2 separate regions of the Homo sapiens genome follow, and region 2 is linked to region 1. A link means that fine-mapping ties the variant in region 1 to the expression of a gene that starts in the linked region. Tissue or cell type: caudate. Region 1 holds a variant in brackets; the other region holds the start of a gene. All regions are shown on one strand. Distances are from middle to middle.

Region 1 (8,051 bases):
GCTTGGAAGACACAAGCAAGCATGGTCGAGCCTAGCTGTCTCCTTTCCTTCTGTGTGTAGCCATCCTCTGCTTTATCTAGCAACCATTGTTATAACTTTAACACATTATGAATTTGTTCTTACTTCTTACAAAGTTACATAAAAATGTACTCTCTCACTGTCCTCCACGTTATTAAATCCCTATTGAATTATGACTAAGCAGTCAGCTACTGACAGCCCAGCCCTTGAGAAACTCTGCTTCTTTCCCGCTAACAACTCATGGCCGCACTCTTCTGAGCATTGCTCTCAGACAGGAGGAGCTTCTCACTTGAAATGACTGGAAGGTTTGCCCTCTCCCCAAGGGTGACCCACAGCCAATGGTTGACTGATATGTGTGAATAAAAGGGAGGTTAACTTGCACAAGTTGGGGCTGGGTATAGTGTCATTTATGTTCCAGAGTTATCTTTTGGACAAAGCCTGACTTCACCTGAATCACATCTTCTTCAAGCATCACCCCATTGTACCGTTTGCCTCATTCCCTTATAGTTTTCTCCTGAGAGCACTTCCTCACTGCATTATTTGCATCAGAATCCTCTTCTCAAGTTCTGCTTCTGTGGAACCTGGCCAAAGACAGTTGGTAACAGGAGTGGTCACAAAAAGCAGGCCATAATAAGGAATATTGCATTGGATTGTTCAACTGGCTAAATGTCAATGAGTACCCTATGGTGGTATTTGGAGTACTGACCGTTGCTGATATGTGGTAGCAGTGTGATTGTTAAAACTTTCAATTGTGGTGAACTTGGACTTAGAAGAGGTGGAAGATGAATTTGCTTGTGGGTATCTCTGACTCTGAGAAATGCAGAGATGATAGTGATGATAAGGATTGTGGCATTGGATGGCTGTTGCTAAGCATGATTGGAGCACCAAAGACAGAAAATAGCAGGCTCGTATTTATTAATCCAAAAATTTAGAGCAAAGTGTGAGTCAGAGGCCTTTCTTGGCAGCATTTAGAAATACCTTCATTTCTTGCAGCTGATAATGAGGCAAGGCATTCAACTGTAAGGGTTGGAGAACTTTAGAGAGAATGAAATTCTTAGCCCAGACAAGTCTCCTGAGCCAAAGTCAGGGCCCTCATAAGGAAGGAGTGTGACTCTGAGACTTGGGATAATGGGGATATCTGGATTGGTATACTTAACTCCTTAAGCCCTGAAATTTTTCTTTTGTCCCAATGACCATGCAGGAAGATAGCAGTCTTCTTGCTAGAACAGCATGGAAAGACCACAAAAATGTCTTACAGGATAATGCCTGACTTTCCCAGGATCTGCCCGTACTTTCTCTGCTGGCAACCAGAGCAATGAATTGGGTCAAAGCTCATCATAGAAAAACTGGGGAAGTGCTGCTCTTTTTAAGGGAGGAGAGGGATTTGACACTGAAGGAGCTGAAGAGCCTACCTGACATATTCTGGCTACAACTGGGAGAACATACCTGGAAGTAAATTCTGAGGGTGCTGGATTGATAAGGATGGAATATGAAACCAAATAAGGGAGAATTTTTTTATGTGGCACTTTCCCATGATAAGTGCACTGGAGACTGATTGTTCCTGATCCACCGATGGATGGCTCTTGACAAGTTGCAAAAAGTGTCAGCCC[A/G]CATTAAATAAAGTAGAAATGCAAAAACTGCCTTGTCAGATTGCGGAAGAGGGGAACGAAAGGCTCAGAGAATTCAGCATGTTAGAGTAGATCACTTATGTAAGTTTGGAAGAAATACTTGCTGGCCTGTATCAGGGAAGTAAAAATCTGCAGGTGAAGGATTTGTCAGCATAATTGAGAAGATCACTAGTGACTTTCCTCTGTAGGCTGGAGCTGATGGAAAGAGGCGCTGCCACAGAATTGGGCTCCCTAAGAACGGGGAAGATAGGATCACGAGCTAGGAAGAGCCAGGTGTCAGCACTTAATCATCAGATTCGAGGTAGGCAAAATTCCTGTAATGGGTAGCAAGACTGGATGGTAGCCATAGAATCCTGGCCCCTAGAACTCTACAGAGATAACGAATAAAACCTGGTTTTCTTAGGAACAAGTTGTGTGCTCCTCCAAGAGTAGTGCTTAATACATATGATCAAAAGAAATAAAAAATGAATGAGCAGAATATGGGCTTCAACTGACGAATGACAAGTCATAATCCCTTGCCTAGTTTTCATACCCGAGCCAGTTCTCAGACCCAGGAACATTAAGCCAATGGCCATTATATGGTGTAGTGCCCCCGACAGACAGAAACGTGAGTTTGGAAACCAACAAGCTTGGAGATCCATTTGGGAGACCACTTGGGGGATTTGTGTTTGCTGCCCTGTAGCTTGACATCGTGTGCCTCTAGATGTCCTGATGTCCAGAGGAGAAACCCTTTCATCAGGTGACTCAGTAGGTGTCTCTCAAAACTTAAAGCTACGGCTGCCTCCTGGACAATTTGAGCTCCCTGTGCCAGTAGACTAACAGACACAGAAAGCAGTTACTATGCTGGAAGAAGTAATTGGTCCTGAACATCACAAGAAGGTAGACTACTACTATATATGAAGGCAGTAAGGAATACGTTTGGTGTTCAGGCAAACATATTCATAAACATGCCCCACTGGGGCATCTCTTGTTATTCTCCTGCCCAGTGTGAAATGTGAATAGGAAAATACAACGCCGTAGTCTCATAAGTTCATACAGACCAGGAGCACAGACCCCTCAAGGATAAGGGTCTGGGTTATCCCACCTGTCAAGCCACCTAGACCAGCAGAAGTGAGACTGGTGTGGGAGAGGAAGGACGTAATAAATATACCTTATGTCCCCTTGACCAACTGCAGCAGTGGAGAGTAGTTCTTCCTATTAACCCTCCTCTAAAAACATTTGCAAGAAATTCTGGCTAATTTGGGGAAACTGCCTTGATAGAGTAGTTTTTACTGTGAGAAACAAGTTGATCTCAGTGAATAAGGTATAGACTCTAATAGATGCAACTGGAGCCCTGTCCAGGTCCTCTTTACTTGGCAGTGCTATAAATATTAGCTACTAATAGCTACCAGTGACACCCTTCTCTTGAGAATTGCTCTTGGATCAGGGGATCCACCTCACCTAGAAATGCCTCTTGTTGTGGGTGACACACAAAAAAATGACTGATACAGGGACACATGAGGTTGCCCCTTTGCCTAGAGATGGGATGAGCCTGTGCTGTCAATTATCCCCTGGCATGCTCTTAAGCCTGATGCTTAAGCTGAAACCACGCTTGTGCCTTGTTTCTCCCCTTGCTCTCTTCTGCTTTCTTTACTCCTTTACAGGTTATTCCTGAAAGTACTTTTTCAATGAATCACTTGCACTAGAATTCGTATCTCAGATTCTGCTTCTAGGTAACCAAACCTAAGATACTCATCACTTTTTCAGTTAAACAGTCTAGCCCACGGGTCAAAGCTCCCTCATTATCCATTGGTCCTGTAACTCCTGAAAACACCTGTTTCAGTACTTTGCGGCATCAACCTTGGGCAGCACACCTTCTTCTATATCACCTGGCTGTCTCAAGGTTTTAGCCAAAGTCTCAAGAAACATGTTAGTATTATTTGGGTTCAAATAGGAAACAGATGGCACATTAAATTAGCATTTCAACAAGTTTTTTTTATGAAGGGTCTAATCACACAGGGTTATGCAGGGAATAAGGGAACCACAAGGAGAGTTGAGGGATTGGAGCAAGAGGAGGTTGGATTTTCACCACCCTTAACCTAAAGAGATGAGGTGGAAAGGATGTTGCTGGGACTGGGAAGAAAGTGTGTTGAGCAGCAACTTTTTGTTGGGAGTACAGCCAGCCCGAAGCCATGTCCTACAGTGGGAACCAGGAGACCAAAGCCTGTGACCTCACACTATTTCCTTCAGCTGATCTGCATTAGCTTCCCACTGGTCACTCAAACAGAGTCCAGAGGCTTTGGGGGCCCAGTGATATAATCCATATTTGATATGGGGCAGAGAGCAGGCTGGAGAAGGGTAGGGAATGGGTGCGAAAGGGGTAAATGCAGGAAAGCCAGCACACCCAGCACACCCCACCCATTTTGCCTCTGAGCATCCATTCTTCTTCATCTGGGTGAGAGAATGCACAAATTCTCATTACAATCCTATGCTTGAGAGGTGATAGCAATTCATCATTCTGTCACCAAAAAGACCACGAAGCAGCCACCATCAGGGCTCTTGCTATAAAGCCGTGGAGTTCAAGGAAGGCAAATGAAATGACTAAACAATATAAAAATATTTGCTGCAGCCTTCACTTCCTTAACTGGCTGTGATGTCTGAGCTGACAGTCAAAGTGGCCCTCTTGCACTTCCCATCCCATGCTCTTACTTCTGTAGCATCTTAGCTGGGCGGGGTTCTCAACCTGGGGGCATACCGTGCAGGATTGGAATGCTTGTTAGTTTGTCTTACTGCATCGTTACAGTTTACTTCTTTCTTTTTGAGACAAGAGTCTCGCTCTCGCCCAGGCGGGAGTGCAGTGGCGCGATCTCGGCTCACTGCAAGCTCTGCCTCCTGGGTTCACGCCATTCTCCTGCCTCAGCCTCCCGAGTAGCTGGGACTACACGCGCCCGCCACCCCGCCCGGCTAATTTTCTTTTGTATTTTTTAGTAGAGACGGGGTTTCACCGTGTTAGCCAGGATGGTCTCGATCTCCTGACTTTGTGATCCACCGGCCTCGGCCTCCCAAAGTGCTGGGATTACAGGTGTGAGCCACCGCGCCCGGCCATCGTTACAGTTTTCTAATGAACAGGACTATTAGGTAAAGGAGCCAGTGGATTCTCTGATTTTCAAATATTGTCTTTCTTGCCCCCATTGTGTAATAGAAATTTCAATTCTTGTAATCAGAATAAATTCCTCAGTCAGTACAGTGACTTTTCTCTCCACCTATCAGACACAACCAGTTGAGAAATTCTGACATTCTGCTATCCTTACTCTCTCATCTCCCCTCTTCCCATTCTTTCTTTCTAACATAGAGCCACTGAGGCTTCATAGACTAATGGGCTGAAAGTATCCCGTCTAAATCATGAGACTGTTTTTTGATATGTGTGCCTCAGGCTCAGTTGTTGATATAATAGATGAAAGATAAAAGGAGTTTGGAAAACCCCTTCTCAAAATAATTCCCCAACTTAAGAGGCTGCAATCATGTTGCGTCATCAGATTTTAAATGTCAAACCCTGTTTATTACTATATTATTTTAGTTTTTTTTCTGTACCAAATCTTGTTTCACTCCTGAACAGAGAGATACCTAGGTTATACCAGCATCAGGATGGCTACTGTAGGACACAAAAGAGAAAAATCACATCAAAAATAGAATAAACCTTTCCCTGTTACAACTTCTCCAAGTCTCAGAAGCCTCTGAGGTCCTGCCCGCAGGCCCTCGGCTGCTCGGCCGGATCTACTTCAGCGCCTCCTGACAAGGCTGAGCTTGGGTTCAGAATGCCAACTTGAGAGGCTTCTTATCTTTCCTGCAAACTGAGAACTTTGATTTTTTTATCTTGCTCAAATCCTAGCCAAGGGGCTTGGGGAATGTGCCCTACGAACCGTGAAGTCTCACAGGAGGGATTTTATTTAACCCTACATATTGTGGCCTGCTTTCCAAACTGACTCTGGCACGTCACATAACAAATAAGGAAGGGAATCAAAATATTTTAACCCCGAATATATTTTCTTGCCATTATCTTGAAATTACCCTGCAACAAGGTTGTCTCTTGTGGGAATAATCCATTTTCTGTAGAGAATCCCCTTTCCCCCACTTTTTCGTTCTTTGCAGACCCAGGAAACAATCATCTAAGAGCCAGGCACCCTTTTAAGCCCAACAAGAAACATTTTACAACCTACTCCCTCTGAAGTCTCATGAGCGCTTCCTCAGCACAGTAAAACTTGGTCTTCACAACCCTCTATCTTAACCTAAACATTTCCTTTCTATTGATCTCAGGTCTTTAGATAAACTTAACCAATTGTCAACCATAAAATTTTTAAATCTACCTATAAGCTGGAAGCCCCCACTTTAAGCTGTCCTGCCTTTTGGGAACAAACTACTATATTTCTTAAATGTATTTGATGGAAGTCTCATGTCTCCCTAAAATGTATAAAACCAAGCTGCACCCCGACCACCTTGGATACATGTTCTCAGGACCTCCTGAGGACAGGGTCATGGGCCATGGTCACTCATAATTGGCTCAGAATAAATCTCTTCAAATATTTTACAGAGTTTGAGTCTTTTTGTTACAAAACCAACATAGTGTTTCTTCTCTCTTCTTCTTGTTGCATTAACTATGTTAACAGTGAGAATTTGCCGGGAACTGTTCTTGCATCTCATGAAATGTAAGCTTCTACAATAACGTCTCACTGTTAAAAACCTTGGACGTCTTCTCCAGTGGGTCCTGAATTCCCAAACTGGGCTCCCATGTTTCCTGGGTCCAAGTTATTGCCTCTGCAATAACTTATTTAACCTCTACGTATAAGCAAAGATTTTTTTTTTCTACTGAGGTGGTCAGAAAGTTAATATGTTTTCTCCAATACTATCTGTGAAATCAGGTTTCTATTCGCAGGCTGATAAGTGTTGACCATCTACTCCAAGGCATTAGCTGCTTTGAACCCACAGGAAGGATCTAGGGCCAGGCCTACGGGCTCTTTCTTACGCTTGGCTGCTCCTCTGCCTCAAGGGAGGACAAGCCTGTATGTTTCAGGGGTTTGGTCCAGCAGCAGTTCAAAATACTCCTCTTCAAGTTCAGTTTCTACACTTCCTGAAAATTCCCCCTTTGAAGTGCTCTTCTTGCAAGCACATTTGAGGGAAAAGATTAGTCTTATTTTGCTCATAATTCACTTCAATGCTATAACTGCACATCTCATTTCTATCACGAGCCCTCGTTCATTTACAACAGGTCACTCCCTGGGACTCAACGACTGTCCTTCTTGATATAATAAAATTTATTATGATTATAGTTTTAATATTAAATAGATAATGAGCATTTTCTTGTGCCAAGTGCTGACCTGAGCCACTTATGCACATTATCCCATTTTATTTTTTCTACAAGCTTATGAAGCATAGGGAGGTCAAGTTACTTTCGTAAAGTCTAATAAGTGGTACAGTAGAAACTGTAGGAGCTTTATCCCAAATATGATGCTGCTGCCATGACATGGGTCTCAGTAAAGAATTTAACTAGGTGGGCCCAGCTTCTCTATTTCCAACAATACTATCATTCAGGGATGTATAAATGTATCAGACTTACTGAGCAGCTGGCATAGGCAGAACTAAAATGCAAACTACGCATTCAATATGACTCCACAGTCCAATGGAAAGAGAAGGAAAGTGAAATCTATCTCAGGTGGTCCTCTTGTGGATATAACCCAGGTCCTAGCTTTGTTCCTCTATCCCCAAGTCTCTGAATCTTTCTTCAAAACGCCATTGTTTTCACTTGTCTCTTTTGTTGTAAGTAGTATTCTCAGTACCTCAAGCCACTTCTCAATACCTAGCAGGTGGCAGGCATCCAATATATACTTGTTGAAGGAATGAACTCAGGAATAAGGTAAGGCCTGTCTACTTCCCAGAAGTCTGAGAGTGGTACTCAGTAACTCATGGAATTTTACTTCCAAAGCAAGGAATTGATCAACATTGCTGCAGACATGGGGGGCATGTTATTCAGGAGGACAGGCTAGCATGGGCTTTAGCTCTCCAAATTGTGCAAGGAGCAAGGATTGGTTTCAGCTCTTGGACTCCTGTTCCTCATAAGAGCTTCCCAGCAATACAAGGTGAGACAATGCCTCTTCCATCATGGGGTATCCAGTTGGAAACTGGCTTATCCCAAATGCAAACATCAATTTACAGAGATAAATATTTTGCTGAGTAAATTAGAACCTAATATAAGTCCATCAACCATGAGGATGAAATTAATGTTACTTGGTCCTAATTATTCATCCTCCTGCTTCAAGCCTGCCCAGAGGTTCAGGGGCATAAGAATGAGGCCATGGGTCCTACACTTTTAAGCAACAAAACCTCCGTAATTTGATACTCAATGATTGACTTCACAAAGTCTGAGCTGAAGTT
Region 2 (6,166 bases), 150 kb after region 1:
CTACTCTTTTCTAAAATGTGAAATACAATAGCTAACCCTCCAAAGACGTCATTATGCTGTCACACAAGTCATTTAATAAACGCTTCATAAAATAGATTGAGATAATTCTAAGCCACATCACATATATACATGTTCTACTCATATACTTTTAAGAGCATTAATCCCATACTATATGTGCTTGTGTAACTGACTGTCCTAAGCTCCTATGGGGTAGATGCGATTATTGCCACCCTAAAGGTAGTGAAGGAGAGGTACACAATGACATTAAGAAGCTTGCCTAAGATCACAAAACAATGACCAGTATGTGATAGAGCAAGGATCTGAAACCAGGCAGGCAATCTCCAGAGTCTGCTCATTTGCTCATTAACCGCAATGCTTAAACCCTGAGAAGCAATTTGTGGGCATGGAAACAATAACTTCGTGTCCCTTCCAGCTCTCTACAAAGAAAACTTTTTTTTTTAAAGGGAAGGAAAAAATTTTTAATCCTAGCAAAAGGCTGTGTAACTTCAGTTGCCAAAACCCTTGGATCTCAAACATCTACTTTCTAAATCACCAGAGTGTGAGACTCCAAAACAATGAATATGCACTCAGAAAACGAAGGCAAGCTTAAAAGAACTCACTCTCCATAGGCACCTTCTCCCAGGGTTTGCACCAAGTCCCAGTCTTCCACAAAGGGCACTGCCATGACTCCACCGAGCACCTCGGCTGTAAAAGGCAGGAATCCAGAAAAGATGTAGAGTGTAAGATCACCAGTGAAGCCACTGAGCCCCGCCTCTCCCCAGGATTGCCCACGAAAATTAACAGCTCTTGCCTTCCCCTTCTATCTCATCCACATTTATCCAAGTCTTTCAACCACGAACAACTATTCTAAACCTGACCATTTTGTCGTGTAAATCACAATCGCCACTCCCAAGCACACCGAAGGTTGAAATTCTGCCCTCCTCAGGCCCCAGAGGAAATTAATTGTTGTTATGAAGAGGTGGGAGACAAATGCTTTCCGGCGAACGACTGGGGAAGGAGGAGGGAGAGGTGGGGGTCTGGGGAAGAGAGGAAGAGGATATAGGGAGCGGTATGGGGCAGAAAACGCCTGCGGCAGCGCCTCCTCCCAATTGCTCAATTCCAATTCCCATCCCCATCCACAGCCCCACCCGTCCCAAAGGCCGGGGCGGGGCCAAACTGCCCCCAGAGGCGAAAGGAAGGGCTGGGACTCTTCCTTGGGGTTCTTAGCTAGCAGCGGGTTAGTCCCTCCTGCCCCCGCCCCCACAACGGGAACCTCCTGGTACCATTCCTCCACCCTCCGAAACCGCCCCTCCGCAGGAGTCTCTCCAATCCCCTGCGCTAGTCAATGCTAACTTTCTCCCACCATGCCCTCCCTCACTAATCTAGACCCCGAACTCCTTCTTTAGAAACCTTCCCTACTCTACCGGCCGCCCTTCCTCACCGGACTGTCCTTTGCCCACCACTGCAGGAATCCAAATGCAGCGCTTTTCCCGCCAAAACTTGAGGGCGTCACGCTGCCGCAAACTCGCGCACCCGCGCCGTAAAGCAAGACAGCGCGCGTTCCCGTGTCCTGCCCCTCTGAATGTCGGCGGCTCCAAAAGGGTGACGTGGAGATGTTGCCGCTCCCGCCCAGGGCTGCTTTGCAGTCGGGGAGAGATCCTGGCTGAAGAGATTTAAGGACGGCGGACCGCATCGGCGCGAATTGAGCTCTGGGCCCAAATATGAAGTGGCATCCGGTGTGAGGCTCGACTGGGCGGTGCTCGAGCGCTGCTGGGGGAAGCCCAGGCCTCCAAGCCTCAGGGGCGCGCGACCGACCGCGCTGCGCTTCCAGGCGGGGCTGCGGGCTTCGCTCCTGGCCGCTCTGGGCCTGAAAGGCTGCACCGCCACCTGCGTGAGGCCACCGGACAGGACTGTGAGGATCACAGTCGGTGAAGCAGAGTGCTTTGTAAACCTCAGAGTGCGGTACTCGTGGTGCTGGAGCCGAGAAACCAGCAGCAGCTGCTGAGAGCCGACTGTGAAGAAATGGGAGGAACTCCGTGTTGGGAGCGAGAGGCTTCGAAAGAACTGGCCACGCAGTCAAGTGTGTGTGGCGGGGCAAGTTTCCCGGAGAAAGCGAGCAGTTTATGTTGGAGCTTGAAGTCAGGATAACCAGTTTTGCCTTTTTTCTGTGAACCAGCTCCAAAACAATGCTTTACTTCAGCCCGGTCTTTTTGCAGGAAGACCATCTGCTTAGCTTAGTTCTACAAACTTTTTCATTTTTAATGTGCAAAGAACAGGCGGGGAGAGCCAAAATAAATCTTACAACGCAAATTTAAAAGCTGCGTACGTCATTTAAGTGGAAAAGTAAATTCTGAGGAAAGAGACTCAAGAACAAAATAGGAAAAATGGAAATAAGTATTCTCTGACAGTAAACTAGACTGGAACTCAGGGATAGGCAGGATCATCTCCATTACATTCTCCAGCACTGGCCGGGCGCAGTGGCTCCTGCCTGTAATTCCAGCACTTTGGGAAGGCGAGGCAGGAGAATGGCTTGAGGCCAGGAGTTCAGGACCAGCCTGGGGAACATAGGGAGACCCCATCTCTACAAATAAAAAAATTTAGGAATTAGTCGGGCTTGGTGGTGTGTCCCTGTAGCCCTAGCTACTTGGGAGGCCTAAGCAGAACAATCGTTTGAGTCCAGGAGTTAGAGGTTAGTGAGCACTACTGCACTCCAGCCTGGGCAACAGCATGATTCCGTAGGAAAAAAACATATTTTTTTATATGTATATATTTTATATATATACATATATATTTTCTTAGTCCTTAAGACTGGGCCACATACAAACACTAAGCATAACTGGCTATTATGATAATAGTAAAGTGAAACAAGTATAAAATGTTACTCAAGGCCGGGGCCTGGTGGCTCACACGTGTAATCCCAACACTTTGGGAAGCTGAGGCGTATGGATCACCTGAGGTCAGCAGTTCAAGACCAGCCTGGCCAACATGGTGAAACCCCCGTCTCTACTAAAAATACAAAAATTAGCCGGGCACGATGGCGAGTGCCTGTAATCCCAGCTACCCAGGAGGCAGAGGCTGCAGTGAGCAGAGATTGTGCCACTGCACTCCAGCCTGGGCAACAGAGCAAGACTCCGTCTCAAAAACAAACAACCAACAACAAAAACACACATTTCTTTTAAAGAAGCAAAGTCAGGAACAAAAATCAAGGAAAAAACTCTTAAAATGCTTATGTGTATAGTTTTGAATCATGACATCACAGATTAGGCTTCATGTAATCTTTTTACAGTTTGTTGTTTTTGGAGACAGGGTGTGTTGCTCTGTCACCCAGGCTGGAGTGCAATTGGGCAGTCTTAGCTCACTGCAGCCTGGAACTCCTGAGCTCAAGTGATCCTCCTACCTCAGCATCCCAAGTCACTGGGATTACAGAAGCGAGCCACAGGGCCTGGTATAAAAATAAAAGCAAGTTTTTATATCATTTATCCCATTTTCTCTTGTTTCCTCACTGTGTGCTGAAAACAAAGAATACGAAGAGGAAGACCTGCAAATTTCCTGTGTGTCTGATGGAGTCTTTTTAGCCTGAAAAAAAAAAAAAAAAAGATATACAGACTCCAGCAGAATACCAGTTAAAGACAGAATACATAGAAATAGCCTCTATTCTCTTCTGAAAGCCCACTAAAATATTTTAATAGTAAAGGATACCAATATTTAAAAGAACCCATAAGAACAGAGTATGAGACACATTTTGGAAAGCAGAAAGCCTTTAGATGAAAGGTAATGAAGATGAATCCCAAAGCTAGCAATGGAAAGCAGAATTAACATCACAGAACTCTGAAAAAGCTCAAGTTGAACTGGTGACACCAGGTAACTGAAGGTGGAGGTAAAAATGGGGCTAAAAGGGGTAGGTTTAAAGGCTACATAAAAAACAAATAGATCCCCGTATCCCTTCCCTTTCTATGTAACCAAGGAACTGTCCCTCCCCAAAGCTGGTACGAGATTTAAGAGGGTAAATGCACAGTATGTGAACTGGAGACCATTAGGCACAGTTAAAAGCTTGGGCACCTTACTGAAAACGGAGGGATTAAGTTTAAGTTTTATCCACTGAAGGTTGAGCCTGTTACAACTTCTTTCCCTACTCTACTCCCAGAAAGCTGACTGCCTGGCTTACATCCTTGAGTAAGAGAATATGCAAGCCTTCTCAAGGGAATCTTACCTATGCAAAAGATAAAAATCTAAAAATCAGTATCATGGATTTCCCAATGTAACAGCCCAGCCAGATCACAGTAGATTGAAACCCACATTATTAATCCCCATCTACACCCCCTACAAACAGACCTTTCAATCAGCTTTTTTGGGTCCCACTCTTTTTTTTTTTTTTTTTTTTTTTTGAGACAGTCTTGCTCTGTCTCCCAGGTTGGAGTGCAGTGGCATGATGTCTGCTCACTGCAACCTCCACCTCCTGGGCAATTCTCATGCCTCAGCCTCCCCAGTAGCTGAGATTACAGGGTGTGTACCCCACACCCAGCTAATTTTTGTATTTTTAGTAGAGACAGAGTTTTCCCACGTTGCCAGGCCGGTCTCAAACTCCTGGCCTCAAGTGATCTGCCTGCCTCGGCCTCCCAAAGTGCTGGGATTACAGGCATGATCCACTGCGCCCTGCCTAGGGTCCCACTCTTAAAGAGGAGCAGACTAGCAAGAATTTGAGAAAGTCTTTAATATGAAAGACATCAAAACTATGCTTAGTGTTCATTAGCCATGTTGCCCAGGCTGGTCTTGAACTCCTGGGCTCAAGTGATCCGCATGCTTCAGCCTCCCAAAGTGCTGGGATTACAGGCATGAGCCACTGCACCTGGCCTAGATTTGAGTTTTTTATGCTAAGTACACAATAACAGTGAAAATGAAGAGTACACTTTTTAAAAAGATAGCTTCATGTAGCCTAGAAAGTAACAAAATTAAGATCCTCAGAGCAACAACTGTAGCGACAAGTTAAAAGTTATCCTATGTATAGTATAAAGGAAGATCATTAATAATTTCTAACTGGTATTAATCATATTGATAAATAATTCAGAATAACCTCTTCCACTAAAGATTCTTTATAGAAATCAAGTAATGTACTTACATATAGTAAATCAAATCTTGAGGCTAAATCTCACCCACAGTTGAAGAACATGGTATATAAATTGGTTTGGAAGGCTAAGTGCCCTGGCTATACAAATATACAACAGCATATCCCTTAGGAGCACCACTATGACTAATCTAAAAGTTATGCAATTCCTCCTGTTCCCTTAAATGGATAACACTAAACAGTTAGCTTTTATTAACGCCTTAGGGTTTATATACATCAGTGATATATTCATAGGCTCTTTGTCCTGATATTAAATGTCCTCAAGGACCACTGTGCTTCCCAGTTAAATTGTTTTTGTTTAGACAAGATTTCACTGTCGCCCAGACTGGAGTACAGTGGCACAATCACAGTTCACTGTAGCCTCAACCTCCCAGGCCCAAGTGATCCTCCAATCTCATCTTCCCGAGTAGCTGGGACTACAGGTGTACACCACCATACCTGGCTAATTTTTATTTTTCATAGAAACAATCTCCTTATGTTGCCCAGGCTTAAAACTTTTTAAGAAGTTTCTCCTCTTTTCTTGCAGGCAGGCTGGCACTGCTCTCTAGGGACCTGTTACTGGCAATGCTTCCCCTTTTAATTTGTATCTTATTTGGAAAGAGCTTCAAAATTAGGTAGTTGAACTTGGTAACAATATACAACAGCAACACATAGGCTAAGACTAAGGGAAAAAGAAGCTCACCTTTGAACAACCACAAGAGTTTTGAGTAAAGGGTCATTCCTGTGTCATGAATAAGTGAGAGTACTGAAAAGCTCCATTTCAAATTGATATGTATGATTATATTTAAGCTGATTCAAAAACACCTACTGACCATCAAGCTCTATATGTAATGCTGGAAGAGTTTCTTCCTCTCCATTGATAAACCAATAATTTCACTGTTTGTCTTGAGTCTTCAAAACTGCTGATTTATAAAGTCAAAGAGCGTCTAAGGATAAAAGACATTGAGAACAGAGACATAGTAGCCCAGAAAGGCACTCTTCTAGCACTCTTCTGGTCCCACATTTATTCATTCAATAAAAATTTATTGAGCCACGCTGTTTCCA

Which allele goes with the higher level. Positions count from the first base shown, and alleles are read on the strand shown. Sizes are in standard deviations (SD) of each study's normalised expression.
As copies of A replace G in region 1, the expression in caudate of the gene that starts at base 2,291 in region 2 goes up (small effect, 0.39 SD a copy in GTEx).

The links. PIP is the estimated chance that this variant, and not a neighbour inherited with it, causes the effect.
Region 2: it holds the start of CHEK1, and the variant in region 1 is fine-mapped to the expression of CHEK1 in caudate (GTEx, PIP 0.91).

Annotation. Positions count from the first base shown.
Region 1 is chr11:125,765,905-125,773,955 of GRCh38, reverse strand. No RefSeq gene overlaps it. Among named protein-coding and RNA genes, the nearest start is that of PATE2, 8.9 kb to the left of the region's middle. The variant A/G (reference allele first, on the strand shown) is at 1,629.
Region 2 is chr11:125,621,288-125,627,453 of GRCh38, reverse strand. It overlaps CHEK1 (checkpoint kinase 1), which reads right to left and starts at 2,291. Exons shown (of 13, transcript NM_001114122.3): 1 at 1,442-2,291; 2 at 621-705. The coding sequence starts at 685. It overlaps STT3A (STT3 oligosaccharyltransferase complex catalytic subunit A), which reads right to left. Exons shown (of 18, transcript NM_152713.5): 18 at 4,363-6,166. LOC118567325 (a long non-coding RNA gene) reads left to right here and starts at 1,560. Exons shown (of 1, transcript NR_170378.1): 1 at 1,560-2,317. RefSeq lists enhancers at 646-695, 256-799, 1,616-2,125.